Linked DNA regions of Homo sapiens: regions 2 and 3 are each reported to be linked to region 1. Evidence: microRNA targets listed by miRTarBase, many of them from high-throughput screens and not tested one by one. Region 1 holds a microRNA gene; each other region holds the end of a gene's coding sequence.

Region 1 (9,946 bases):
TACATTTTTGCACTTGCATGTCAAATTAACTGTCTGTTCTACTAAAATGTTAAGCACCATGAGGGCAAAGCCTAGCTCTCTCTTGCTCTCTGCTATCCCCCGCGTTCCCAGGTAGGCACTCAGTAAGTGCGTGATGAATGATGAATGGATTTAGACAGGCAGACAGTTAGAGGCAGGAAAGTAGTTCTCTGAATCCAACTTGCTGATATGACAAATTCTCTTAAACCCAACAGCTGTTACCAATAGAAAAAAGTAGTCTCTAAACTCTCTTTTGGTACCTCTAAGACTCTGTGGCCACAGTGTGAGGAAGCAGCTAGTGTCCCCTGTGGAACAGAGCTGAGTATCCTTTGTTTGCCTGATGTCTGGGGGCTAGGATACTAAAACTAGGACTGCCAGTATCTACCCCTGAGAAACATGGGTCTCTGCATGACATGGTTACTTGACAGCCATCTACCCAGCTTAGGGAGATACCTGTAACATTCTGGGTTTCTAAGTTAATATATGAACTGACTTTTTAGGTTGATATAGTCTGTGCTTCAGACACAAATAGTTTTAACCCTCAATATGATTATGCTAAGGCAGAAGGAAAAGGAGATTCCCTTTTATTTTCATCTAGGTCTCAATTTCCACAACAATTTCAACCCCAACTTATCATCATTATAAATAAATGTCAGCCTGGAAACTAGGTATTGGCTGTGGCAAAGCTAAAATACTGATACCTTTTGCAGCCAAGAAACAGAAGCCAACTGCTCTTTGCAAAGCTATTGAAGTAGGTTCAAGGTACTTGTGTTCCACTGAGATCTCCCTTATTATTTTACAAAAAGCACAAATCACTGAAATCCAGACCTAACTTGGAAAAGCTCTTGGGTAATGAGAGGGTATACAGGAATGAGAGCCTCAGAACCAGCTGTGTAGGAAGCTAGGCAGCAGGGAGACACCTGCATTTTCTAGCCGTGACCTGTGATTGTTTAGTCTCCAGTTATCCCCAACTACAGCTGATCTAGTATTGAATATGATCTTTTTGTCAGACAAAAAGCAAACCCTTTAAAAACCCCTTCCAGAACCCAAAATATCTCTTGCCAAAAGCTGTGAGAGCAGGACAAGAGCTCCTCCTATGCTGCTTACTACATCCTCTTAAACTGTTTATGAACTAGACAGTATCTAGGACACTGAGAATCAAGTGGAGGCACCTAGGTTTGTGTTGTTAGGACAAGGCACAACTGTTCTCAAATCACTGGAATGGAAGAAGGCATATCTAAGGCTCTTCTGCATTATGAAGACTCATTCTGCCAATGGAGGTCAAGCCAGCAAGGAAATGATTATGCTTGGTTTAAAGAAATGGGTGAAAAGATAATGACATTTCAATGGGCAGGAACTTTCAACTCAATAGCTTTAGTGGGGCAGAAGTCAGGCCTCAACTACCTCCTACCTTCAAATAATCTTTACTTGCTTCTCTGAAGAACAAGCGAAACTCTCAAGTATCTTTGAGAAGTCAGGGCCTTGGACTCACAATTCAGTATTTCTGACTAGTTCCTTTTCCCAGCAGTGGGAGGTTGCCCCAAGTGGCAGAACAATGCTTTAATGACTGGATCAATCCAGAATGGGGCACTTGCTCAACTTTAGCAGTGGCCTCCCCAACTACAGGGCTTGCTCTTGGAATCTTTCCAGAAGCTGAGACTGACGAACAGTGCCAGAGAAGAGCAGCATCACATCCTAGGGCCATCTCTACAGTGTTGTGCAACCAGCCCTGACTGGAAAAAAGTACATTCGCTTTAGTAGCAAGAGTGAACTGCTGCCTCCTTCAGAAAGGGTGGGTTTTGGAGAGTAGGCGTTTTAAAGGACTTTAGGAGGTGCCAGCCAATTTGAAGCCTGGGAAAACTTCATGTCTACAGAGGATTAAAAATGCTATCTTAGAATTTCAGGCCAGCTTTCAGCAATCTCAACCTTTCAAAGGCCAGGCAGCAGCTGTCCCGAATACGATGCCAATCAATGCCTCGAACACCTACAAAGAACTAAATCCAAGCAACAAGAAGCTGTTTCAGCTAGACACACTTTAAAATCAGATGGATCATAGCATTTTGAGTCTGGCTAAGATGGAATAAGGAGCTGTATGACACCCCGAGAGACCCAGAAGCACTGAGGAATTTGGAGGAACTGACAGGATGTGACCCTTCTCTCCAGCCAGTGTATTCAGCAGGCAGCCCACAGAAAACAAGGAGTTAGCACAATGAGAGTGAGCAAGGCCTGATTTCATCACAGAGCTCACAATCTTGTTTTAAAGGGGGCTTCTGATAGACAAAAGGAGAAAACAATTTCAACAAGGAAAGCAGGTGTATGATACTCTTTGTTCTGAAGGAAGATAAATGGCCTGAGTTCTTGTTGTGACTTCTGAGAGAGGAGGGAAGGACCCCCAAGAGGAGGAATTGAGCCTGTGGGCACAAACCTGCAATGTTTCAAAGCCGGTGCGTAGCTGGGGACGACCGTGGCAGCCTGCCGCTGTAAACATCCGACTGAAAGCTCCTCTGAACACCTTACAGCTTCCAGTCAAGGATGTTTACAGTAGCAAAGACTGCCCAGAAAGAACGGAGACGCAGTGAGGCACACCCTACTCTAGTAAGGAGGTGACAGAGGGCTTGCTAATCCAAAGGCCCTCATGCAGGGTCAGAATTACAAATGTTCATTAGGATGCCCACTTCTCCTAGACTTTCTCTGACTGGTTATTAATACAGGCTGGGATGGGGAGAATGGCTGTCACTGAATGACTGCTTCTAAGGATAATATACTATGAAATAATTCATTAAAAATAAAGTTTTATATAACAAAGCAAGCAGAACAAGGCACAGCTTTGCTCCTGTGAGATTCTGCCACAATTTCCCAAGTGGCACCTAGTGAATCATGCAATCTGCATGCTTAAAACAATGAGCTCTAAAGGACAGAGGTCTATTACAATCACAATTAAGAGCTATATGCACCCAAGGTGCTGAAAAAACAACTAGTGTGACCTTTGGAGAGGGGCAGGCAGAAGAGACGGGAAGGCAGACGTTCATATTCTTTCTTGTGATTGCTTGCAAAACAGCTCAAGTGGTGGTTCTCAAATCTGACTGCACATTAAAAGCATCCAGGGAGTTTTAAAAGGTACTGATGCCTGGGCTCCATCATGAGATTCTGATTCAGCTGATGTGGGTTAGAGCCTGGGCGCTGATATTTTTAAAACCCCAACAGGTGATTCTAGTGTGCAGTCAGGGTACTATATAAAGATATAATGAACCACAATATAGAGGAAGAGAAAACATAGTCCATTCACTCCAAATGCCACTGTGCACATAGAGAAGCTGTTTCTTAAAAATCTAAAATCTATAACTTTCTGGGAATATTCTCCTATCCCAGATGAAGAGCTCTGATAGACTTCCTAAGATAACTTGAAATGAGCTTAACTTTACCATTTGTAACTAAAGTCTTTCATTTTCATTTTGTCTATTTTCACTGAAATACCACTTCGGAGGCACTGAGTTAAAAGTATCCAGAAATGAGTAACAGAAGGAGATGTTAAGAATGAATCTGGTCTAGAAACGAGAAGCAAAAGGAATAGCAAATGACTTGTGCTGAGAGAGAAGGAGCGTATCTGACACCAGTATACAAAGCGCTCTTCAGTCAGCAGCAACTGCAATCCCTTCACAGCTCACCTGACGCTTTGGAGGTTTCAGTTCATCTCTTGGAACAATATCGATGAGAAAATCAAACTGATCAAATTTTGTAATTGCCATGGCGATATCATTTCTCTGTAACAAAGAAGAGCGGTGTGAAAAATTAGCCTGGGGAGAAACTAGTTCACTTGGCTTTATACCCTCCAAGTAAGGTAAGACGACTTTTAAGCCAAACTAAACACCTACGGGCAAGTCTACAGCTGAAATAAGCACAGCCAAACTCATATACTTTAAATGATCAGACCTGGTGGGCAACCATCAACAAAAAAGAAAGAGATACATGTAACTCACACTGTAAAATGGGGTATCTGAGCCTCCAACCACTGCTACTCCTGCTTGATCCTCTCCCCGCGATTTTCAAATTACAAACCTAGTAATCTCAATTAGCAGGTTTCTGGTCATTCTGTGGGTTAGCAAAGTTAGGTTTATAATCTTTTTAAGGCCCTAAATAATATTTTCCCTTTGGTTCACAAGTATTGAATTAGGTAAAATCCTAATTCAATAACTTTTTGCAACATTTTCAAGTCACTGGATCTATATACACTAAGTTCTCACAAGCTATGATTTTTATTTGGGAATTCTAAATTGCAATACTTAAACCATGGGTTTATCATTGCAGTTCTGAATTCCCAAATAAAAAACATAGCTTGTGAGAATTCTGATATTCATAGTTTGTGCTATGAACAGCAGCAAGAGAGGTAAGAGAACACAGGAGTCAGAAGGCTAATGATACTGAAACCAAGACCTGCTCTAATGGGGGTTTCTCTCCAAGTGTGATACTTCCTTTCTTTGAATAATAAAATTAAAAGATTTTTACTAAAACCCAACATATTATGTATAGTTAAGATTTGTGTACTTTACTAAAGATTTAAAGCAAAAGGAAAAACAATATGAAAAAACACTGAACGCTAGTGAATGATATGCATGTTAAAGTATTTGGGCAAAGTAAACTTTACAATGCACTTAAAAACAGATTACTTGAAGGATGGATAGAGGGATAAACAGATATGAGAATAAAATAAGCATAGTAAAATGTTTATGGTAGAATCTAGGTTGTAAGTATACAGGTATTCACTGTAAACTTTGCTTATGTTTGAAATTTTTCATAATAAAATGCTGGGGAAAATGTTAACACACTAACAGAAATCCTTAGCAAACTCTATATACCACACCTTAAAAGGTGACTCATCGGACAAAACAGGAGAGGATGGAAATTTTTTTTTTCTTTCCCTTGTATCTGTGATGGCCCCAAGCCTCTGAAATGCAAAACTCTAGTCCGCCCTTCTTGCCAACCACGAGCTTGACGATAAACCCTCCCAACTGAAGCAGGGCCCATCTTAAGATTGCCAGAACTCATTTAAGATGACTACAATATAGTGTCACATTTTTTGATGTCATCTACTCAATCTATCTAAATGGCTCATTTATTGATGGAATAAAAGGGGAAAAAGAAAAATAATAAACATCTCCAGCATATAATAAAATATTCTAGAGTATTTTGGAAACATAGATATACTTAAGTTGGTCTTCCTAAAATTTTTATTTGCTTTTTAAATTCCCTGAGGCAGGAGGATCGCTTGAGCCAGGAGTTTCAAGACCAGCTCTGGGCAACATAGTAAGGCCTCATCTCTACAACAACAACAACAAAAATTTTAAGCCAGATATGGTGGCATGCACCTGTAGTCTCAGCTACTTGGGAGGCTGAGGTGGGAGGATCACTTGAGCCCAGGAGGTCGAGGCTGCAATGAGCTGTGATTGCGCCACTGCACTCCAGCCTAGGCCACAGAGTGAGACCCTATCTCAAAAAATAAAAAAGGAATATAGAAAGTTCCTTCTAGCCCTTTCCAGTCAATATCCTTCCCCACACTCCCCTAAATCTGGGCAACCACAACTCTGATTTCTATCACTATAGGTGGTAATAATGCATTGTATCATGCACTATGTAATTTTTTCCCTCTGGTTCCTTTTGTTAACATAGTATCTTTGAGATTTATCCATGTTGTATGGAGCAATGGTTTGTTTCTTTTTATTGCTGAGGAGGAATCCATTTCATCAATACCTCAGAATTTGTTTATATATTCCTATATTGATGGACACTTGAGTTGTTTCCAGTTTTGAGGTAGTATAAACAAGGTTGTTAAGAGCATTTTTATATAAGAATGGCTACAGTTCTTTTGGGTACAAACCTAGGAATGAAATGGCTGGGTTACAGAGTAGGGGGATATGTTTATCAGAAAATGTCTAATATTTTTTCAAACTGACTGACCACTTTAGATTCTGACCAGCAATATATGAGTTTCAGACACTCCACTTCCTCACCAACTGTGGTATTGTCAGTCTTTTTTATTTTAGGTATTCTAGTGGGTGTAAAACAGTATCTCACTGCAGTTTTTTATTTCCCTGATGACTAATGATGTTGCATATCTTCTCATGGGTTTATTGGGCATTTGTTTATCTTTTTTTCTGAAGGTCTGTCCAAGTGTTTTGCCTATTTTATTTTCTAATCTGAATTGATCTTGAAGGGAGCTTTAACTGGATCTCTCTGGATCCACAGACTAACTTCAAGGCAACATAAATTTTGTGACTTCAACATGCATATCATTTATTGGAGCTCAGTATTTTTTGCTTTTTTTGCTTTAAAACTTTCATATAGTAATGTACACAAATCCTAACTTTATGACGCATTGACAAGCTGTACTAGAATGCAGGCTTCCCACAGATAAGGATTTTTGTCTGTTGTGTGTATCGTTAATCCCCAGAGCCTAGAAAAGTGCCCGGCACATTGTGGGTGTTCAGTAAGTATTTTTAGAATAAATGAATAAACACATGCATTTTCTACTTTGTAGGTAAAGGGAAACAAGAAGAGAAAATAATTTACTTTCTTGGCTTCATTGTTAAAATACTGCCACCACTGTTTTATACTTGTTACACTCTTCTTCTTGTATCTGGGAAATCTTTCCTCTAAGAGCCAGGGCTTGGCTATAGGGTGAGGGTTTCTAGAGTCAATGACCAAGGGCTCTGCATACAGTATGAATGTGAATTCGCTAGGTTAAAAATTAAAATTAAAAAAAAAAGAAGAAGAAAAAGAAAAGGACTCCCAGGAAGGCTGACAAGGAACAAAAAGCCTAATGAAGCTAGTGAGACTGATGATACTTCCTGGAATCTCTCAAGGCTCCCAACCAGAAGTTGATTACGTTTGGAAACAGGTAAATACTCTTATCACTTGAGCCTCTGTTTATAGTGAGGGCTCACCAAGGGAAAAGAGTTCAGTCACTAAGCTGTGAAAACCAGGAGAGAATTGATTAAGATTTTTGGTGGAGAAACACAATCACCATGGCTAGAAGGTATGTCTGCCTCCCAACAGTGGTGATGCCAATGACACGTCAGCTTGATAGAGGCCTAAAGGAGAACAATCTTTGGTCCTAAAGGAGAACAATCTTTGGTCCTAAAGGAGAACAATCTTTCTCCAACACCACGCAGGAAAACAGGCAAAGGCTGCTGCTTACCCCAGTTTTCCTAATCTAAGTCTGCAATAATACCTGTAGAGTCCGGCGCTTGTTATCTTCTGTGTGAATCCAGGCTCGAAGAGTCAACTCTGTGATAAAAATCTGGGCTGCCTTGGCAAAGAGTACAGGCGCTTCTGCACTGATCATCTGTAACAGACACAGGCCCTCCCTGTCAATCACCAGCAAGTCATGCAAACCAGTCTGTCTCTTGCCTCATTGCCTGGCATGGGACTATGGGGCAAGGGTCAAAAAATGAGGTGGTATACTCAAGAGATTCCAAGGTAAAATAAATCCATGAGTGGGAACAAAGCAGGTAACAGGGAGAAAGAATACTTATCTAGCACATACCATGCGCCAAACCTTGTGCAAGGTGTTTTCTTACTCTTATAATAGCCTTTCAAAGAAACTAGGGGTCAAGAGAGATGAAGTGACTTGCCCACAGCCATAGAGCCAGTAAGTGGCAGGGTTTAGGTTCTAATCCAAGGAGAAACAATATGAGGAAGGAGAATGAGCTTGAAAGCCAATGGATTTGGATAAAATTGCAGGCTTCCCATCCTTTTGGGCTTTTTCATGTACTGAAAAAGAGGATAACCTTTCAGTTTTATTGTGGCAATCAAATGAGATAATATATGTACCCAGCCCAGGGCTTGGCATATAGGAAATGCTCAAGCCATATAAACTTTCTTGATGTGTCTGATTTCAAAGTTGAAGCTCTTGGTCAAACAAGGTTCTAAACCTTTGGTGAGGTAGTCTGTGCAGGATACAGCCACAGAAAGAGCTCTGGAGTTAAAGAAGCAGCAGATGGGAAATGGGATCTTGGTCCTATCACTCTGGGTGAGTCACTTAACCTCTTTGTGTCTATTTCCATTGTCTGTAAAATGGAACTGATAATTCTTATTATATCAAATCTCACAGGGCTACTGTGAGGAAGAAAGGAGCTAATAAAAGGGAAAATTACTATCAATTGTTAGCTTTCTGTGAAAATACAAAAGACTATTAATTTTGAGTGGTAAAGAGACAGAGTTCCTCTTTCTCTGAGATCTGTAATGGAGATGGACTCCTAGGAATACAGAAATGGCCAAGCCCACGCAAACCCTCTCACAAGTATTATTCATGTAAAAGAAACTCATAGATCAAAAGGTTAGAACAGGTAGAATATCATTATCAAAAATTTCTTAAGAGTTCAGATCAACAAACTATGTAAGACGCTAAGATGATGGCACTGTCCTGTTGATTTGATGATACATGTATATACTACACTGTGAACAGAACTGTGAGATACCAGCTGGGCATGGTGGCTCATGCCTAATCCTAGCACTTTGGGAGGCTGAGGCTGGAGGACTGCTTGAGCCCAGGAGTTCGTGACTAGCCTGGACAACATGGTGAGATCCTGTCCCCCACTCCAAAAAAACATTAAAAATTAAGCCAGACATGATGGCACGTGCCTGTAGTCCCAGCTACTTGGGAGGCTGAGGTGGGAAGATCACTTAAGCCTGGGAGGTGAAGGCTACAGTGAGCCGTGATTATGCCATTGCCCTCCAGCCTGGGTGACAGAGTGAGACCCTGTCTCAAAAAGAAAGAAAAGGCCAGATGCGGTGGCTCACACCTGTAATCCCAGCACTTTGGGAGGCAGAGGCAGGCATATCACCTGAGGTCGGGAGTTCAAGACCAGCCTGGCCAACATGGTGAAACCCTGTCTCTACAAAAAATACAAAAATTAGCTAGGTGTGGTGGCGGGCGCCTGTAATCCTAGCTACTCGGGAGTCTGAGGCATGGGAATTGCCTGAACCTGGGAGGCAGAGGTTGCAGTGAGCTAAGCTCGCACCACTGCACTGCGGCCTGGATAACAGAGTAAAACTCTCAAAAAAAAAAAAAAAACCCAACATCAACTATTTTTTCAACATCTAAAAAATTTTCAGGATGATCCATATAGTAACCAAAACTGCTCAATTTTGGCTCACTTAACAATTTTGCACAGGAACCAAATAACAAAGCAACAGACAGTAATTTTTGTGTGTTCTTGTTTAATTAAACTTTGAGCTCTAGAGAAATGAGCAATAACCTACCCATCACTTAGCTTCAATAAGAAATAATAAAAATGAATGTGAATTCACCTTCACATCTTCATCCAGTTTCATAATCTTCTTAATACGAGCCAGTGGGAGTTCCTGCACTCGGAAGTCTTTCTGAAATGAACAACAAGAGATGCATAAATGGTGGGGACAATCAACAGTGTGGCAAAGCATGACAGGCAGTAGGAAACACTCTGGCTTGGTCCCTCTCTTCAGGAAGCGTATGTCGGGAGAGAAGGTACAGATGAAATGAAGAAAATACAAGCTCCAGAGCAAAATTCTTCTTTACTTAACATATGCAGGTCTTCAAAGAATTAATGGGCTTTAGAAAAAGCTTAGGATGGCCTCTAACAGTGCTCTCATGAAACACAGCCCCAAGCAATATCTGTTTTTTTTTTTTTTTCGTCAGCACAACATAGAGGGACATTATGAGCGCCTTCTTTTTTTTTCCAAGTAAGTTTACCAGTCTGCAATATGCAGATTAAAATGAGATTTCTGTCTCAGGGGTATTCCTCTAAACTGCCAGTTCTTTCTTCCATTCAGTGACCAAACTAACAGCAACGCCGGGGCACTTGACCACAGTGATCCACAGTTCTTTACAACTGATAGTGGCCATTTCTGACATTTGCACTAACCTGACAACAGAAACTGGGGAGGAGAGCTC
Region 2 (9,946 bases), not on the chromosome of region 1:
TGGATGCATGAGTAGTTGTTTCCTATTGGGGCTGTTAACAAATTACCACAAACTGAGAGGTTGAAAACCACACCAATTTATTATCTTACAGTTCTAGAGGTCAGGAGTCCAAAATGGTTTTCACCAGGCTGAAGTCTTGTCAGTGCGGCTTTGTTTCTCCACGGAGGCTCTGGGGCAGAATCCAATGCCTTTTCCAGCTCCTCCAGGGGCCACCTCATCGCCTGGCCCCAGGCCTTCTTGCCATCTTCACAGCCAGAAGCTTCCTTGCTTCATGCGCAGACCCTCGTGACTCCCCTTCCCTTATAAGGGCCCCCATGATTACTCAGGGCCCACCTCAACCATCCACGGTCATCTCCCCACCACGAAATCCTGAACTGAAGCACAGGCGCCGGGTCCCTTTTGCCACGCAAGGTAACACTTTCCCACGTCCTGGGGTTCCAAACCTGGACATCTCTGGGGGCTGTTATTCCACCCACCGTCATCAGTGAGGCGCCTTCAGGAGGGGCTGTGAGGTCACGTGAGGTCGGCTTCAGAAGGGCTAGGTTTGAGTGCCTGGAGGACACTGGCAGGAGGCGCCCCTGGGCTCCATCCATTTACCACGCACGCACTCAGCACCCCTGAGACCATCCCTGGGGCCTACAGGAGAACCCTGTACCTCAGCAGCCCTGAAACCTGCTTTCCACTTCCGGACCTTTCTGAAATCAAGACGCATCTTTAGATCAATGGCATCTTACTGTGTCACCGGCAGGCCTCTTCTTTCTTAGTGACGTTTAAAGGAAGGTATCTTACCCCTGATGGCTTCTTGGAGTGAATGAAATTCCGGTGTGAGCAGGCACTAGAAGGGGCCTCACAAGAGTGTCAGGTGACCCCACTCCGCCCTGGCCCCCAAGTCTTTCCTAGTTGCTCATCTGGCCCTTTCTGACCTGGGATCCCAAGTGTCCTGCAGCTCCAGTGCCCAGACCCCCATAACTAACAGACCCCACTAAAGCCACACACATGCTCAGCTCTCCAACCACGGTGGGGTCCAGGAGCCACCCCTCCCGCTAGGTGTGCCTAAACCATGGGGATCTGACTCAGGGGCTCTCTCTCGGCCTGGCTGCAAGCTGAAAACACCTGGGGGCTTCCAAAATGCCCAATGCCTGGGCCACAACCTAGACCAGCTCAATCTGAATCTCCAAAGAGATATTACAGCTCCCCAGGAGACTCCAAGGGGCAGCCAGAGTGCAAAACCGGAAGAAACCATCTAACGTGGGGCAAGGGAGGCGTAAGGCAATGCTGGTGGGGCGTGGAGGTGGAGGGTGCCAGGCCCAGGCTATAGAATTACATCTGTCTATTTCCCATGCCCCTGCCACCAGACTCTGAATTCCTGGAAGGGGACCAACCCAGCTACCTCAGTTTCCTCAAGGCACTAGCCCTGTGCCAGGCACATAGTGGGGTCCAGAGAATGTAGGCCGCAGGGCCTCCAAGGCCAGGCAGCAAAGGCTTTGTGCCAAGAAAGGTCTGGGAAAGGAGCCCACTGGGTCTGGGCCAGCCCTTTGATTCCTGTGATCTCCAGTGAGTCACTGCCCCTCTCTGTGCCAGTACAATGCACACTTGGCCCACACTTGGCCACTGAGTTTGCACTTCACTGAAGGGCTGTGGGAACGACGGCAAGGATAGAGGAAAGCCAGATTAGGGAAGACACTGGCTCTCAGAACCTTAGGGATCTCGGTCTTGGGCCACTCATCCCACTTCTGCCCAGCATCTAAGGAGCTTGAGAGGGTGAAGCGAGAGTAAGAGGGTTCCATGCTCACCCCCAACAGGGTCCCAATGTCTTCTCGATGCCCTGGTCCTTCTGGGCCTAAAACATCCACTTCTGGGGCTCTGTCCTCTGGTGGCTACAAGGATAAAGAATCTGAGGTCCTGAAAGCCAAAGACCTAAGAGGAATCGAACAAGAAACCTGGGAGAGGAGCACAGAGCAGCGCAGTTGGGGGTGTTTACACGGCAAGCAGAGTCCAGGCAGGGAGGCCACAGGATACCTGACAGGCACCTCCAAGAAGGATCTTCATGGGAGTACTCAGGGACCAAGACAAGTCCAAAGGGACTGTGGAGAAGGCCCCTGGCTTCTGGCCATCAGCACAGCCAAGGCCCCAGTACACAACTAAAGGCTTTTATTGGGAAAGGGAAATTGACTGAAAAATGGCCTCCAATTTCCTCGCTGCCTGAGACACTTGGTGCCTCCTCCACAAAGTCCAGGAAAGAAGGGCCCACCAAACTGGGCCCCCAGCAGGCTCAGGTGTAGAGGTCAAAGTCAATGCGTTTGGAGTTGTAGAACTGACCACCAGGGGGGTCCAGCTTCCGGCAATAAACACCGTCCGGGAAGTAGCCTTCACTCACCCAGGTCTGCAAGGAGAGGGCAGAGCTGGGGAACAACTGACAGGAGTGGGGGAAGCAGGGACAAGGCAGGAGGAGGGAGAAAGCAGCTCACCTGCATCTGGGCGCTGGTGAAGGGCCCATACAGCTCGGCATCCCCCGTGTTCTCCCACTTATATTCCCACATCACATCCACCAGACCATCTCCCCGCGACTCTGCTTCTAAAATAACAGGCAAAGCCATTTGGCCTCCAGTGTCTCACTTCCTACCCACTGCCCCCTCCTCTGTCCTCCAAGCTCACCTCCTCTCTGGGTAGGGGTTGGGGTCTCCAGTTCCTCCTCCGCCAACTCCTCAGCGAACATGTCCAGGGAGGGTGGGGGTGTGGGATTGTGGGGTCCTAGGGTCTGACACCCCAAACCCTTCAGACGCATAGCCAACCGTTCCCTTGTTTCCTGGTACACACCAAGGTTGCCCCGGGCCACCATCTGGTCGGCCAACCCGGAGAGCCGGTCCAGGCGCTGAGGGGAACTGGGTTGCCCAGGCCCCTTTCTCCCTTTGCCTCCTCCTCGGGCCCCCAGACGCCTCAGTGCCCCAGCCACTGTCTCTCTAGGCAATAGGAGCTCCAAAAGTCCCTCCAAGAGGGCTTGGGCACTCATTGAGGTCTGGCCCAAGCTGTCCTCCTCCTCCGAGTCTGAGGCCTGGCGCTGGCCAGGTGGCCGCTCCCGGATCTTCACCTGTAATGGGAAGATGGAGTGATTTCCCACCAACTGCCACGGGAGCAGGCCCAGCATCTGCCACTCCCAGGCCCCAGCCACGCCAGCCCCTGGGCCGCACCCAGTCAATGTTGTCCAGCCAGCTGTCTCGGATCTGAGCATCCCGGTTCAGGAAGTAGTTGCCATCGGCATCAAAGTGGCCTTCCTCCATCTCCTCCTGCAGGTTAAAGGGTGTGATCCGAACACCCCCCTCGCTGGGGAGTGTGGCTGCCTCCTGACCTGCACCAAAGACACAGGTGCCCTTTTCCAGGCATGGAAAAAAGAGACCGGAGCCTCCCTCGCTCCACACCACCAGAGGCCCCTACTTGTTTTTCCAGCAGAGTGTATTCTTGGGTACAGCTTACCTTCTACATCCTCTGAGGCCAAGATGTCATATTTGCTGGACCCCCCATCATCATCATCCTCCTCCTCATCGCTATCCAAAGAGTGTTTGCCTTTAAAGCGGCTCCCAGGACCCCCTGACCCAGCCACAGGGTCCACCAGCTGTGAGCAGGAGCCAGAAAGTTGAGAAATGCAGGTTACTGGCTACCTCCCCAAATACTTCCGGATCTGGACCCAAATATTCCCCAAATATTTCAGGATCTCGACTACTTCCCCAAATATTTCAGGAGCCACACTAAAGACGCTCCCAACCCATTCCTCAGAGAACCTGAAAAAACTAGGCTTTTCTCTGCCTGCCCGCCCCGCCCCTCTCCCGCCAGCTTTCTTCCTCTTCAGGCTTCTAGCTCCTCTTTCCCCCACACAAAGCAGTCTGGCCCCCTCACCTTCTTCTTGGGGACAATGATTTCATCCTCATCCTCCTCATCTCCCACGCCTTGGAAGGTCACTTTCCTCTTTGGCATGACGGGGCAAAGAGGTGTTTCTCAAGCTGAGGAAAGGATGCAGAGGAAGGGAACCGGGTGAGGAGGGGACTCGCCAACAGACGCAGCACAGCAAACATTTTTCCTGGTCTGTGACAGGTACAGTTTGGGAGCGGAGGGAGCACAAAAGCAGGGGCCGAAAGGAAGCTGGCAGCCAGGAGGCCTCCAGGACTTGGGTCTAGCATCCGCGAGTTAAACGGGGCGGGGACGGAGGAGCGGACCCTCTGGATCCCCCGACCCTGGCTGAAAGGAGACAGGCTTCACCACGTGACCGCCCCCAACTCCAGCCCCCGCAGTCTGCGCGCCACCGGCTCCACGGGCTGACCCCCGCTCTCTACCCTGGCTCTCTCGGAGCTCGCCGGGCCCCGGCAGACCCAGGACCTGGCGCTCTCGCCACCCCGTTCCTCCCTGCTCCGAACTCCCAATTCCGTGTGGTGAGCCCCAACTGTCCCGGGCTGTGTACAACTTAGAGGGCCACGGGGATTCGGGCGGTCCCACCCTCGCGCACTCACCTGGGAATCCGCGGAAGGCGAGGTGGAAAAAAGAAGAGATGCTTGCGCCAGGGCTACATCCGGGGCACCCGGCCGCCATCACCCGGAAGAGGACTGCGGAAGGCGCCCGGGAAGCCCGGAAGTGGCTTCACTCGGGTTAGGGAACTAACTGGAAGAGCGGGCGGAAGTATGCGATAAGCGAGCGAAGACGCCTCCACCCTCTCTCCCGCCAGAAGTGACGTCAGTCACGTGGGAGGACAATGGTGAGAAGAGGGAACCTAAGAATTCCTGGACTCTGACTGGGCGTGAGAAATGGCCGGAAGTAGCTTCGAGTCCGTCATTCAAGCAGTAGAGGCTCTGGAGAAAAACTGGAGCGCATCTGCTTAAAGGGCCGCCCAGGGTCAGGATGGAGGGGCAAAGTCCGAGCAGGGTCAGTGGGTTGCTGCTCCGTTTTCCTGTCCTGGGTTCAAGTCACCCTTCCCCCAGGGCTAAGGGCTCAGCGCCCCTACCGTCTCGTTAGAAATCCTGCCTTCCCATTCCTATGGTCCAGTGGTCAGCCCTCCTAGCCTGAGAGGTGCAGCCTTGCCTCTCCGAGGGGAAGCCTGACTCTCCCGATGGCCAGCCTGGGGCCCCTGGACGGCTCTCCGGGCACTTTCTGAACACACCTCCCTTTAGGACCCAGGGGAAATAATTTGTCCCACGCCCATACCCTGGGCGAGTTCCTGGTTTCTGAGGTGGGAGAGCCATCACTGGAGAGGTGGCATTGGCGCCAGTACTCAGGCCAGAAGCCCCTTGTGCCCTGCTCTCAGGTAGGCCTGGAAAAGGGCAACAGTGCCTCTCTGCAGCATGAAGCCCCCCTGAGCAAACAGGGCCTAGCAACTCCTGCCCAGGTAGCGGAATGTGGCCCAAGCAGAAGGGGGAATTGGGGAGGTAGCGGGGATCAGCCCCTGTGCTGGGACCCCTAGCTCTTGACACTCGGAGCCTGCATCCCCCTAAGCCAAGACTGTGCGCAGGCAGCACGTGCTGAAGCCAGACGAGGACAGCATGAGAGTTCCCCTACTCTTCCCCCAGGCAACTAGATGGGCCACTTCTCTCTCCCTAGGGGTTTCCTCCCATATTGGATCACGATGAAAACTGCACAGAAAGTCCGTGCTCAGTTTCTTCCATGGTTACAGAACACAGGCCCCAGACCAGGAAGGCATTCTGCTAAAGAAGGGGACCCGAAACCTCAGCTACCAGCGCCGATGGTTCATCCTCCGAGGAAACCTCCTCTTCTACCTAGAACACTAGACCGACCATGCACCCCTGAGCCTCATCCTGTTAGAGAACTGCCAGGTGGAACCACACCTTAAGGCTGCAGAACCCTATGCCTTTACCATCCTGACCCCTGGGGTGGAGGGCACAGGTGGGCGGGCCTACAAGCTGGCTGCAGAAACCCAGGAAGAGCTGGAGACTTGGCTGTGGGCACTGGCTGGCGCGAGCTGGAGGCGGCTGGCTGGGCTGCTGTCCCCCCTCCCCCCCCACCAAAACCCAATACTGGGAGCTGTGCCAGGCAACTGGCCAAGAACCCATCTCATCCCCAGAGGACAGTGGCTTTCTAGCCACTGTGAGTACCCCCTCCAGCTTCCAGGAGTTGCATGAGCACTTTGGGAAGGAGATCCGGGTGCTGCACGTGGTACATAGAGAGCTCCAGGCAGCCAGTGACAATGGAGACAGCAGATCCCAGGCAAAGATGGAGCAGGAGCTCAACCAGTGTCTGATGAGTGACTGAGAGATGGACCCAAAGCTAAGAGGTACCTACTTGCCAAGACAGCAGACTGCTTCAACAGAGACCCAGGTCCTGGCTCTGTCCCTCCCTCCCTCGTCCTTACCCCATCCCCCCCTCATCAAATAACAAGGCAGAAAACAGGCCCAGGTACAACAGCAGGTTCTTTTCCAATTCCTCAAAGCGCTGCATGGGGTGGGGGCAGAGACAGAAGAGAATGTAAACATTGGGTTCCACCCCCTGGAGCTCAAGGGAAGACCCTTACCCAGATAGGGACTAACTGGAGGGGTGGAAGGGAACAAGGTGAAAGGTATGGGTCCTGGTGAGACAAAAGCAGGGGGGCCTGAGAACACAGAGCAAGGTGGGTTTGGAGGGAGCACAGCAGGGTGCAGGAAGGGAGATGGGGGACATTTCCTATTCCAGTGCATGTCCCCTTAAATAAACTGGGTACAGGAGCATTATGGAAGGAGAACCAAAGGACAGAAGACAAAGCGAGCACCCCCACCCCAGGCCAACGCCATCCTCTGTACACAATTACAACACAGGTCCAGAATGAGAGCCCTGGCCAGGAAGTGGGGGAGACAGGGAGGGCTGAAGACAGGGAAAAGGAAGCCAGCTCCACCTCATGGTAAGGGGAGCTATGGAGTGTAAGAATCTGAAACTGCTGACTCCCATCACCAGGAGTCACCCCTGGGATGACAACGGGCCATTCAGGACAGCACCTAGGAGGGGACCCAGAGGGAACTGGGGCAGGAGCGACAGAGACCCCAGCTGAGCCTCATGGGAGATGAGAGGCTCCAGACTCATTTGCAGCTGCCCATCTGTCCTGCCCGTGTAGGGATCAGCAGCTGGCGAGGAGATGGGGAACCAAGCCACTTTCCCCAGCAAGGGACAGCCTGACAAGGTGCTAGGGGGTGGCACCTTGGGCCAGGCCTGTTCTTGGCTGAGGGAAAGAGGGGGGCCATGCAGTCCAGCCCCAGGGCAGAGGTCAGAAGTAAGCGTCCTGCCGGGCCTCGGCTGAGGGCCTGTCCCCACCATCATGGGGGCCTGGGGGCCCATCTGCCTTTCGACGCAGCGAAAGCTTCCGGCCTTGAGCCTTCTTCTCCTGCTTCTGCCGCTCCTTCTCCTGCTTCTCTCGCTCCTTTTCCTGCTTCTCTCGCTCTTTCTCCTGCTTCTGCCGCTCCTTCTCCCGCTCCTTCTCCTGTTTCTGCCGCTCCTTCTCCTGTTTCTGCCGCTCCTTCTCCTGCTTCCGGGTCTCCTTGCTGGAACCCAAGGGGGTGCTATTGCCAGTGGGTGAGGGAAGGGATGGATGCAGTCCCTCAGCAGTGACCACAGGCCCTGGGGCAGGCCCAGCACTGGCTCTGCGGACGGGGGGCGGCGGGGACGGGGCCCCTCCAGCTGCCCGGGAGCCTCGGCTCTTGAGGCCAGGGAGGCTGAGGAGGCTGGAGGAGGGGCCCAGGGGTGGCTGTTGCCGCCGGCGCTCCTCGTGGATGGCCCGGGACCCATGCAGTCGCCGTGAGGGCCGATACTGCAGCTCCCCCCGCGTTTCCCGCCACTTCTTGAGCTGGGCTGCATTCTCCCGCTCAATCAGTGCTTCTGTCACCGGCAGATTGGTCACCTGCACAGAGAGGAAATGCGTACCAGAATGGAGCTGAGGGTGGGAGCGGGCTGAGGCAGGCAGGGGCTGCGTTGAGGGCACAGGCCTACCTCATGCACCAGGAAGTCTTCCTGCATGCACTGCTGGGGCAGGTTACGCAGCTGCTCCATGGTCTCATACATGCCTTGGCAGGAGCGCAGCTTCTCCACTGAGCCCAGCGTGTGGCGCAGCAGGACCAGGGCCACCCGGAAGATGATCTTAACGCCTGCAGGGGTGGAGAGTAGAGAGCATGGGGTGGTCAGACCCAAGATCTCAGCCTGTCCTGATCAGGATAGACTCACAGCCCCCATCCCCATCTACTGCCAATCTCAGATGAGGAAACTGAGGCCCTGTGAAAGTACATGAGCTGCTATCAGTCTCAGGATCTTGGCAGGGAGAGCAGGCTCTGGGTTGGTGGCAGAACTAAAATCAGGCCTGTTTCTCCAGCCCCCAGCTGCTTATGGTGAAACCTCCACCCAACAAGTACCTTTTGTCCATGGACCACCAGAAATATGACAGAACCCCTGGTAGCCACCACAGAAACCCCAGCCCCTCATGGCCTGGAGGGCCACAGAAGTACCTTCACAGAAAAACATGTCCCAGACACGCAGCACCGACGCCCAGGGCAGGGTGCGGGCGAAGATGCACATGAACCACTCCGTCATGTAGAGCACAGGGTCAATGCGCTGCCGCCGCAGGTGGCGATGCGCCAGCGGGGAGGCCCGGCGCAGGAGTGCAAAAAAGATCTCCCCGTCCAGCTGAATGGCCTCCTGCAGGTGGGACAAGCCATGAGAAGAGGGCCAAGTCAGCTGTGCCCCCATCAGGGGAGAACTGGCCGGCCCTGTGGGCAGAAGCCGGGAAGGCCAGGGTGGGGCAAGGCAAGGACCTGCCTGCAGCCTGGAGGAAACGCCACAGCCCCGGATGCACCCAGCCTCCAGACACTCACCAGCCCTGCACTGTAGTAACCTGGGAGGTACTTGTCGCAGATCTGCACCAGGCACCAAAAGGCTTGCTGAGAAGAGCAAGAACAAGGAGGAGGGGTGGGGCCTGAGAAGCAGGGAGCAGGGAGCTCCCCCATCACCACTGTAGGGTGAGATCCCCCCTGCCCCTCCCGGCCCAGGACCAGGGCGCTGACCTCCGCAGGCATGTGCATGAGCAGGACCGCAGCCACGGGGGCCTGGGCCTGGCAGTAACCCTCGTCAGGCCGGTAGATGGTGTAGGCCTTCAGGATTCGGTACAGGTCCTGTTGCCTGTGGGGGTTGGGGAAGACTGTGAGGGCAGTCACGGGCTGAGAGCTCTGTCCCCAAACCCAGTTCCAGATTCGTCCCAGAGTTTATCACCAGGCTCCTCCATCCACCTGCCCAGTCCTGCTGAGCGAGCTTCAGCTAAAGGCTCAGCCCACAGCAGAGCACTCCAGGCCCCGGGGCTCCGCCTTTGGCTACATACTCCACATGCTCCTGGCCATCCCAGCACAGGCTGCACCCTCGCCCTCCTTCCTCAGCCACATCCCAGAAACCTTCCAGGTCATTTTCTCCAGGAAGCTTTCCACAGCTGCAGCATCAGCCCTCCTCTAGCACTAAATGTCTTTGTCACCCCAAAGCAGTAGCTCCCCAGGGCAGGGCCTGCCTTATCGGTCTCACTGGATTTCATGGTTCTTGGGGAAGGCTTGGAAGCCAGCTGTGCCTCAGCCCTTTCTCCTGTCTCTGCATCCAAAAGAATAAAATCTGTACCCTAGATCTGCTCTTCTTGAGGGTGCCCCACTGCCGTGTCCAGGACTTCTATTCACTCAGCCCCACATCAGAAAAGAGCCCCTTACTCCAAGCCTAAGCAGCGCTGCACCCTGAATTCCATTCCTGCCTGCTCCTCTCCACCTCCACAGCCATTCGCAGCTCAGACCTCCATTTCTTGCCCATAAAAAATGACCTCCCAGATCCTCTCCCTGCCTCCAGTCTCACACATCCTCCTCCTGACCACTTCCCAGAATAGCTTTTCCCAAAACTCCAGGCATTCAAGTGTGATCTTCATTTGTATTTTATCTGCATACCACCCTACTATTTAGTTGACATT
Region 3 (9,946 bases), not on the chromosome of region 1:
ACACTCTTTCCAACTGCATTATCAAACATAGTCAACAGTGTAAAGTGACTTCGCATGAGGAGAATTGTAAGGGGTAATATTTCAAGCCCATTGAACTTTCTGGAGAACCTTTCCCTCCAAAACTCTTTAGGTTTGCATTTACAATGAGCCTCTCTGACAAGTGAAAATGTGTGGGCAGGTACATTGGACAGGTATATATATTCCCTTTTCTCAGAACCATCTTTAAGTCATGCTTAAAGGGGACAACACAATTTAAGAAAAAAGAATAGGAGGTTGTGATAATTGGTATTCTGAAGAGCTCATATTTATAAAGCCAACCCATCATTTTACAAACATTTCAGAATTTTACCTTTTAGAAGGAAACAGTTCTGCCTGTTTGAGAAGTGCTGGTAAAGTTTAAAAGAACCTTTATGTGAAACACGAAACGTCATCTACCCAGGTAAATTGCTTGTCTTACCTGTTGTGGTTTTTTATTACTGTGTTGTAGGTATGTGACTGGTGTAAGCACATAAGACACACAAAAGAATACCTGGATTTTGGGGACGGGGAAAGAAGGCTTCAGTTCTGCAGTGCAAAATGTCTCAATCAATACAAAATGGACATTTTCTACAAAGAGACCCAGGCCAATCTTCCAGCTGGGCTGTGCAGCACATTACACCCTCCCATGGAAAATAAAGCAGAAGGCACCGGGGTGCAGCTGCTCACTCCAGACTCTTGGAATATCCCGCTAACAGATGCTCGGAGGAAGGCCCCCTCCCCGGTGGCTACAGCTGGCCAAAGCCAGGGCCCTGGCCCGTCGGCGTCCACCACCGTCTCTCCATCTGACACTGCCAACTGCTCTGTCACTAAAATCCCCACGCCAGTGCCCAAGTCCATCCCCATCAGCGAGACTCCAAATATCCCTCCTGTCTCCGTCCAGCCACCTGCTAGCATCGGGCCTCCCCTTGGCGTCCCGCCTCGGAGCCCTCCCATGGTGATGACCAACCGCGGCCCGGTGCCGCTGCCCATCTTCATGGAGCAGCAGATCATGCAGCAGATCCGCCCGCCCTTCATCCGCGGGCCTCCGCACCATGCCTCCAACCCCAACAGCCCCCTGTCCAACCCCATGCTTCCCGGCATCGGGCCCCCGCCCGGTGGCCCCAGAAACCTGGGCCCCACTTCCAGCCCCATGCACCGGCCCATGCTATCGCCCCACATCCACCCCCCGAGCACCCCCACCATGCCCGGGAACCCCCCAGGCCTGCTGCCCCCGCCGCCTCCGGGCGCCCCGCTGCCGAGTCTTCCCTTCCCGCCAGTGAGCATGATGCCAAATGGCCCGATGCCGGTGCCCCAGATGATGAATTTCGGGCTGCCGTCGCTTGCCCCGCTGGTGCCGCCCCCGACCCTGCTCGTGCCGTACCCCGTGATCGTGCCCCTACCGGTGCCCATCCCCATCCCCATCCCTATCCCTCACGTCAGCGACTCCAAGCCCCCCAACGGGTTCTCCAGCAACGGGGAGAACTTCATTCCGAACGCCCCTGGCGACTCCGCGGCGGCGGGCGGCAAGCCAAGCGGACACTCCCTGTCCCCCCGGGACTCCAAGCAGGGCTCGTCCAAGTCCGCGGACTCGCCCCCCGGCTGCTCGGGCCAGGCCCTGAGCCTGGCGCCCACGCCCGCCGAGCATGGCCGGAGCGAGGTGGTGGACCTGACGCGGCGCGCCGGCAGCCCCCCGGGCCCCCCGGGCGCGGGCGGCCAGCTCGGCTTCCCAGGCGTGCTGCAGGGCCCGCAGGACGGCGTCATCGACCTGACCGTGGGCCACCGAGCCCGGCTGCACAACGTGATCCACCGCGCGCTGCACGCGCACGTCAAGGCGGAGCGCGAGCCGAGCGCCGCGGAGCGCAGGACCTGCGGCGGCTGCAGGGACGGCCACTGCAGCCCGCCCGCCGCCGGCGACCCAGGCCCGGGCGCCCCGGCGGGCCCCGAGGCGGCCGCGGCCTGCAACGTCATCGTGAACGGCACGCGCGGCGCCGCCGCCGAGGGCGCTAAGAGCGCGGAGCCGCCTCCCGAGCAGCCGCCGCCGCCGCCGCCGCCCGCGCCCCCCAAGAAGCTGCTGTCGCCTGAGGAACCGGCGGTGAGCGAGCTAGAGTCGGTCAAGGAGAATAACTGTGCTTCCAACTGCCACCTGGACGGGGAGGCGGCCAAAAAGCTGATGGGCGAGGAGGCCCTGGCGGGGGGCGACAAGTCAGACCCGAACCTTAATAACCCCGCGGACGAGGACCATGCCTATGCTCTGCGGATGCTGCCCAAGACCGGCTGCGTGATCCAGCCTGTGCCAAAACCCGCGGAGAAGGCTGCCATGGCACCGTGCATCATCTCCTCGCCCATGCTCAGCGCCGGGCCTGAGGACCTGGAGCCGCCGCTCAAAAGGAGGTGCCTCCGAATTAGAAATCAGAATAAGTAAAAGGTTTGTATGTCCGCCGGGCGCTCCTCCACACCAGCCAGTGCACCTCTCCTTACTTCTGACAAGGCAGAGGGGAGAGTTGTAATTATAGTCATGATTTTACCGTGTGTGTTTTATATTGCACACGGTGTGGTCACGCTATCAACATTCTGAGCCAGCAGCTCTGATGCTGAGTTGTTCAGTAGCATCATTCCCATTTTACAGCCGAGGAAACTGAGCCACAGCATGTGAGTGCCAAGCCCCGGGTCACTTACTTGAGGGGAGAGCTCAGTCTCCAACCTGTCATGAAATATTGTCTCTCCAATTACACTTTATTATCATGCTCATCTCCGTAAATCACCCTATTGGAGAAGAGGAGGATGGGGGGAGGGAGAAGAGATTAACTTGGGACACCTAAATGTGTGATCATGAGGTTGCAGGGCAGTGGTGAAATGTCCAGTGAACCCATGAGCTGGGCCACCTACTAAATAGAGCTGGTTGCCTCATTGGCAGAATGTCACCAAATTTTCTTGATAAGGACGGGATTCCATTTGTAAAGTGAGAATGAAACCTAACTCTTACATGCATATGTCAACTGAACCCAGGCCACTGAGTCCTATTTGCCTGGCAGGGTGTCTTTCCTGTTCATGGGGTCTCCTTCCTGCAGTTTGGCACCAAGCAGCATCCCCCAGGGTAGGCCTCAAGCGTCACTGACCAGCTTTGCTCTCTCCCCCTTTTGGGGCCCAGCGGCTTAGCTGATGAGTTGCTCACCTTTGCAGGTAATGGGAGGCTTCGATAGGGAAGAGGGTGGCATTGCTAAAGTGAGTGACACTGCACATCTCTGACCTCATAGACAGACTCCTGCCTAATGCCAAGTGAGCCGCCAAGAGTGAGTTAAATTTTTCAATATTGGGAAGGGGAACTAACATGTGTGCCTGTCATAGGCAGAGGTGGCCTCATTTGCTCCTCCTGCCAATTCTGGTGGAATAGGCATCATCTGTATCTCACCAAGGAGGCAGATGAAGCTTAGATACTGTGCCCGAAGCAGAGCTGGTACGTGGGGAAGCCGTATTCAACTCAGGCCTGTTGGACACAGCCCAAGCTCTCCCGTCTATCCAAGCGGGCATCAAACAGGCCAAAATTCAGTTGAGTTTATCAACTTCTTATGGAGAGGAAGAGGAGAGATGAGCATTTATTGAGCACCTAACTTGTACACTGCTCCTTCCAGGGACTAGGGAGATACAAAGGTAAATGATGGCGTGCCCCCATCTGGTGGGAGTGCAAACTCCAGGAGGAAGGAAGCGGGGGCCAGGAGAGTGGATCTCGTAAGATGAATAATTGCTCACATTTGTATGCAGGCTGTCTTCTAAGTGTTTTTCGGTAGTATTTATTTGGATCTGGGTCCATAGGACAATTATCGTCTTCATTTTATTGATGAGGAAACCAAGACAGAGACATTAAAGTAACTTGCCCAAGATTTTACCAAATTAGCAGAGTTGAGATGCAAATCCAGGCTGTCTGACTCCAGAGCTGCATTTTTTAAAAAACCACTGTAGGAGAATAGGCTAATTAGTTTCTTTATTACCCTACATACTAAAATTGTTTTACCCACCTCAGTGGGTAAAACAACCCTCAGTTGTCATAGGGGAAAGTTTCTTAAAAAACAAACAAAAACTGAGTCTACCTCCTAACTTCTCTAAGTGTTCAGACAGTTGAATTCTTGTTTCTGCAGCACCAACAAGCCTAAATTACCAACCCATTACTCCACAGTGGGAAATACAAACGTGGAGCACAGCACTTGCTGTGGTGTGTCCAGTCCCTGGTCTCTAAGTTGGGCCCCTAGCATAGCCAGGAGATTGCTTGGGAAGCACAGACCAGAGCAAGGAGACTTGTCAGTTGAGGAAGAAAGGTTTCTCAGCCACCATCGTTCGAGGTTTCCTTTTCCTCTGATGGCTTTGCCAGTAGAGGAAGAATACTAAAAATGAGTTCACCATTCCTTCTTGATTTTACATCTACAAGTTCTGCTGCCTGAAGACAGATGGCCTCAGCCTTCTCACAGTCACCTCAATTGAAAATGCCCCTGATTTCTTCACGAGAGTAATTTAATCTGGTTGACAAAGCTGTGAGTAATGGGAAGATGTGTGACAAAAAAAGTGACGGCCTTCAGAAAGTCAGAAAGCATTGGGAATTGTCACTTTAAACACATTCTAATATCACTCATTCAGGTGAGGCTGAAAAGAAGAAGAATGGGAGGGTGAGAGATTTTACTATTATACCATCATTGGAGTGAGAAGTGACCAGGTCAAGAATAGTGACACTAACATATGAGTAGCTTGGGACCAAAATAACATAAAAACATAAAATACACGATGGCTATTTGGATGATATATGTTTCTGAATAAAGAATCAGTCTTGTATGTGGACCAGAATCATTAAAAATATCAACCTGGCTCCAGCCAATTTCAGAAGATGTGGTGATGAAATTGCCCACTACCTCTTGAGATTGAAGAGTTCTTTCAATGATGGGTCCCCCAAGAAATTACAGCTTTTCTTTAAAATCAGAAATACAGAAATACTCAGGCTTTGTCAGCTACGAAAGGGTGACAAGGCAAGTGATTTAAGATGGGGGAAAAACCACCTCTCCTCCACTAAATCACATTTCCTCTTGCCCTCAGAAGTTCCGTGTCACCTCACAGCACAGTCTCAACCTGCCACAATTTACTCACATTCTCTGGCCCTTCCTGGTTTGTTTTATTTATTTATTTAGTTATTTATTATTTTTTGAGACAGAGTCTCAATCTGTCACCCAGGCTGGAGCGCAGTGGCGCGACCTTGGCTCACTGCAACCTCGGCTGCCTGGGTTCAAGTGATTCTCCTGCCTCAGCCTCCTGAGTAGCTGGGGTTATAGCCACGCGCCACGATGCCCAGCTAATCTTTGTATTTTTAGTAGAGACAGGGTTTTGCCATGTTGGCCAGGCTGGTCTCGAACTCCTGACCTCAGGTGATCCACCCACCTCGGCCTCCCAAAGTGCTGGGATTACAGGTGTGAGCCAACGTGCCCAGGCCCCTTCCTGTTTTTTTGTGCACATGTGGTGCTGTTTTTCTTCTATGCCTTCAGAAACCCAGACCGTTCATATGGTTGGGGAAATTGGAAGTGTATCCACTAAATAAAGGACCGTATGGCTTTTGTGCCCTGATGCTGAACACTGGTGACAAGTTAAAAGCCAAAGTGGAAAGTGTTACAAACCAAAAGCAAAACTCAGGCTGAGATGTGGTGGGTGAGGTGCAGGTGAATGATTTCTCCGTGTGCTTGTTGGTGATTCATTATATATTATTTCTCATATATATTCATTATATATTATATAGGATAATCTGTCAATAACTTCAGTCAGCTCTTCATTCTTCTCACTATGTCTGCCTTTTTCATACTGTAGTACTATTTTATTATTTTTATTTTATTTTATTTATTATTTTTTTGAGACAGTCTTGGTCTGTTGCCCAGGCTGGAGTGCAGTGGCACAATCTGGGCTCACTGCAACCTCTGCCTCCGGGGTTGAAGCAATTCTCCTGCCTCAGCCTCCTGAGCAGCTGGGATTACAGGCACATGCCACCATGCCCAGCTATTTTTTATATTTTTGGTAGAGATGGGGTTTCACCATGTTAGCTAGGCTGGTCTCAAACTCCTGACCTCAAGTGATCTGCCCACCTTGGTCTCCCAAAGTGTTGGGATTACAGGTGTGAGCCGCCGCTCCCAGTCTGTAGTACTGTTTAAAAAAATCATTTAAAATAGATCAAAAGCAGACCAAAGTATCTAGAAATTAGCAACCGAGGCAGCTACAGTTGTCTTCAAGGAAGTCTTATTTGCTAGTTCTTTGTAAATTATAGGGTTTTTTTTTCCCCATTTGGAAATTATTCTGTTCCTGGTTACCTGCCTTTATGCATTCTTGTGTGTTGATATGATTACAAATGATTTCAGTGGACAACTATTTTCCCCAGATGCAGAACTAATTAAGTTTAGTTGAAGATTTTAAAAGGTTGTAAACTTCCTTTGATCTTCAACTTTTAAGACTCCAAATGCCAGTTCTGCAGCTTCTGTAAGCTGGAAAAAATATCCCCCCGAATAATAAGGAAAACAATGTATAAACATTTTCCGAACTATTCTATCCACAAAGAATTCCATTTATAAATGGAATACTCCCTTCTTTGTCTTTGCCTAGGAGCTTGAGGGATAGCTGTTTGTATTTGTACATTTTCTGAATTTCTACAGTTTACACTTGTTTATGGTACATTGGGGAGTTCAGAGTAACCATTTGCAAATGTTTGAAGATATTCAAAAGAAAATATTCCCCCTCCTCAGTTTTCCAGGGAAATGACATAGACTCTTTAAGTAAAATAATCAATGGAAAAAATGTGTACAAGGAGTAACCCTTTCATCTCACTTTTCCACCTTTGTGGCTCCCAAATTTCTAAGTTTCAAAAACCAGAAAGAAAATATAAGACCCTTTTTCCTGGTCCCAATTCCATGATACTACTCCAGGCTCAGCAGGGGGGACTTGACATCTTATTTTCTCAGGGAAAGCTGGAGGAGGCACCTGTAGTTTGGCTTTTTGGAGTTTAATTATTAGTCTGGTCATGGAGCCACAGTCCTAGAAACAACTGTTCCAAGGCAAGGAGTTCACTTCATTGGGGAAGCCAAAAGGGTGGAGGTCCCAAAAAGTTTTTTGCCAATTTAGTTTCTCAAACTGAGAAGTTCAAGAGAGGAGGCTGTCTGGGAGGAGGTTGGGAAGTCAGTCCATACATTCGAAACAATACTATAGGTGCCTACTTTTAAAACAAGGAAAAGAAGGAAAACTGAGAGTGACAAAAGGAAATCAGTATGAATGGGATGTGCTCGGATCCTGTGTCAGACTTGTGCTATCTAATGGTCCAGTACTTGACTATTGGGAATATTAATTGGTGACAGTCCCTAAGTTAAGGGTTAGCTTGTCTGTTGGGATGCAGTTGGCACATATAGTTCTAGGTAGAGGTACTTCAGAGAGCCAGAAAGAAGACACCAGGTCTGTGTCATGGACACATGTGAGTGGGAGGACCTGGGAGTGTGCTTCCTGTGATCATTTCAGACTTGTAGAGGAAAGTTTTCTGGAATGAATGGTGTCAAGATTGGCCTGAGATATGTCCCAATTCAATGCTGCTGGGACCATGTTAACCCTTATGACCAGGGACTTGGAGGGAAGGTTTTAATGTACAAGCATCCAACTTTTATATATGATGTCAATCAGGTTATGATGGAATATGAAATGACATCTGTGACTGGATATTTATTACTTTCAGATGTACCCATAACCTTCCATCTTCAGCAGGACTGGGACTAGAGTGAAGCAAAGGAAGGGCTTAGGGCAGAGACTTTGAGGAGGCACCCACTCAGGGTCATGCTAGTGCAGCACTGGTCCTGGCTCTGTCTCCAGATCCATATGGCAGCTCCCTAAAGCTGGTCTCCTGGCCCCCTGGACTCGTCCCTGGATGGCCTTCAGCAACTCCCCCTGAAATTTCATGGAAAGTTTTATGTGCCTATGCACAGAGGCATTTTCATGGGAGAAGACGTCCATAGATTTTGGCTCCAGAAAAAGTATGCTCTATATCTCTGAAGGATTATCTTACCTTATTATGGAGCAATATCTGAGTTGAAATTTTTCTTGTTTCTCTGAGGAAGCTGAATTAATGGAAAGTTTCTCTTAAAACTTAGAATATATTGTTTGGCAATTTCTGCTGTGGGCCTAATATTGCAGAATCAAAGTTGGAGCTACATCATGTAGCACTTGCCTCAATAAGATTGCCTTAGTGACACAATGCAAAAGGTTACAGACTTTTCTTCAAGTTACCATTTCCCACAAGGGCCTGTGATGAAAGAAGAAAAGAGAAGCAAGAAAAGAAATAAGCTAGATACTTCCCCAGCACTTGGACCTTCAAAATTTGTACGATACAGGGAGACACTGTTCTTCTGTGGAAAGATCTTCTACTCTGCCACTGAGGCCAAGAAAGCAGAATGGCCAGAGTCAGAGAGGTGGACAGGTCGGTGAACACCAGGGCATTGATGTGGCAGTGTCTGGGAGCGCTGCCAATGCTCCCTAGCTCCCCAGTATGCCTCTTTACTTGGAGAGACTGCACTTGGAAAGAGACGCGTTCGGCCAGCTATTAACCAGCCGTTGCCCAGGAGGGCACTGGAAATCAGTTCCCTGACTGGTTTCCAATGAGTCACTCCCTTGCCAGCCTAAGCTGCTGCCTGTGCACCATGTTCAATCATTTACACCTACCTTCATGCAGACAAGTGCTGCAGAGGGGCAGAGATGTCTGAGGACCAAAATACGCTGCACCGTGGAACACTTACCTCATGTTGTGGAACACTTACCCTCACCCGAACGCCCCGCCTTTTCCAGACTTTCCTGTCTAAGAGATCGTGCCAAAGGGACGGGGGTGGCCATGCTGTTTTCTCTTACCGTGTCCTGCACAACTTATTTTGTATCCTTCCGTTGCCGTTTTAAGTGCATAGCACTTTCTATGTGGATGGATGTTAAGGCAATGCATTCTGCATGTGTAAACTTTTTCTTAGGGCCTCAAAGGGCATAAACGAAATTCATTCAGAGAAAGAAAGAAATTAGCTTTAGAAAATAAACAATTTAGCACTGGCATCGTTTAACAGGGTCCCATTCTCAAGGAAATGGGGTAAATGCCATTTCAGACACCAGCTCTGAATACTAACTGCAGAGAGTTCTTCTCCAGATTTGTGGATTTCCACAGCACAGAAAAAAAAAATAGGGTGGGGTCAGGATTGGGAACATGAGACCATCAACAGGGAGGGGAAGTACACACACATGCACAAAACTTATTTCAAGGGTCATCGAAAAGATTCTAGTGAAAAATGACTGGAGCAAAAGAAAATGACAATAACAAAAACTTGGAATTATTCTCTAATGCTTTAAAATAGTCCCAAGTGTACTACATAGTTTAAAATTGGAAATCAGTCAAGTTACCTAACTCTGCCACTCCTTGGACTGAATTAATGATCATAAGCAAAAAATGCTTGTGCAATTGTACTGTGTGGTCCAGATGTACAGCCCTGAGTAGAGAGATGGGGGCAGAGCAGACCTGGCTTTCCAGGTAGCCAAGGGGTCAGGGCTGGGGCAAATCAAAGCTTCCAGTGCTCCCAGCCTCATTCCCATCCAGATATTTGGCTGCACCAGCACTAGTTGTCTCATCATTTTCCCCTCTGAACCTCTGGTTTGTTGTCTGTCTTTGATATAGTAAGCTGTGTTTTGTTTTGGGTAAAAAGGGAAGTAAGAATGTGACTGATAGTATTTAAAGAACAAAAGGGAGAAACGCTTCATGAATTCATTTGATATGGAACATTGACCTAACATCCAAAAAAATACAACTAAAAAGTAGATCTTTCCCTCATTTGCATGGCTTATTTCCCCAGATATGTTTTTGGTATTGAAAATGAATGGTATTCCCATACAACATGTGTCTCAA

The links. The annotated mature microRNA hsa-miR-30e-5p reads UGUAAACAUCCUUGACUGGAAG and lies in region 1 at 2,538-2,559, opposite strand. An mRNA with a match to its seed (bases 2 to 7 or 8) in the 3' UTR can be bound and repressed. Matches are read on the target gene's strand: a 7mer-m8 pairs with bases 2 to 8, a 7mer-A1 pairs with bases 2 to 7 and ends in A, and an 8mer does both.
Region 2: miRTarBase lists TBC1D10B as a target of hsa-miR-30e-5p. Seed matches in the 3' UTR shown: 8mer at 6,462-6,469.
Region 3: miRTarBase lists SOBP as a target of hsa-miR-30e-5p. The part of its 3' UTR that is shown has no 7-base or 8-base seed match.

What each region holds. Positions count from the first base shown.
Region 1 is chr1:40,746,984-40,756,929 of GRCh38, reverse strand. MIR30E (microRNA 30e) reads right to left here and starts at 2,575; the gene lies at 2,484-2,575. NFYC (nuclear transcription factor Y subunit gamma) reads right to left here. Exons shown (of 10, transcript NM_014223.5): 3 at 9,325-9,396; 4 at 7,244-7,357; 5 at 3,684-3,779.
Region 2 is chr16:30,350,713-30,360,658 of GRCh38, forward strand. TBC1D10B (TBC1 domain family member 10B) reads right to left here. Exons shown (of 9, transcript NM_015527.4): 5 at 9,015-9,129; 6 at 8,826-8,891; 7 at 8,460-8,649; 8 at 7,951-8,105; 9 at 6,390-7,861. The coding sequence ends at 7,232. It overlaps CD2BP2 (CD2 cytoplasmic tail binding protein 2), which reads right to left and starts at 4,596. Exons shown (of 7, transcript NM_006110.3): 1 at 4,500-4,596; 2 at 3,892-3,995; 3 at 3,472-3,610; 4 at 3,189-3,346; 5 at 2,656-3,088; 6 at 2,469-2,575; 7 at 61-2,383. The coding sequence starts at 3,969. The coding sequence ends at 2,273. It overlaps CD2BP2-DT (CD2BP2 divergent transcript), which reads left to right and starts at 4,722. Exons shown (of 2, transcript NR_184233.1): 1 at 4,722-4,908; 2 at 5,581-9,615. RefSeq lists enhancers at 3,610-4,561, 3,646-4,845, 4,536-4,830, 4,562-5,513, 4,568-4,627 and 1 more.
Region 3 is chr6:107,633,027-107,642,972 of GRCh38, forward strand. It overlaps SOBP (sine oculis binding protein homolog), which reads left to right. Exons shown (of 7, transcript NM_018013.4): 6 at 488-2,443. The coding sequence ends at 2,440. Among named protein-coding and RNA genes, the nearest start is that of SOBP, 150 kb to the left of the region's middle.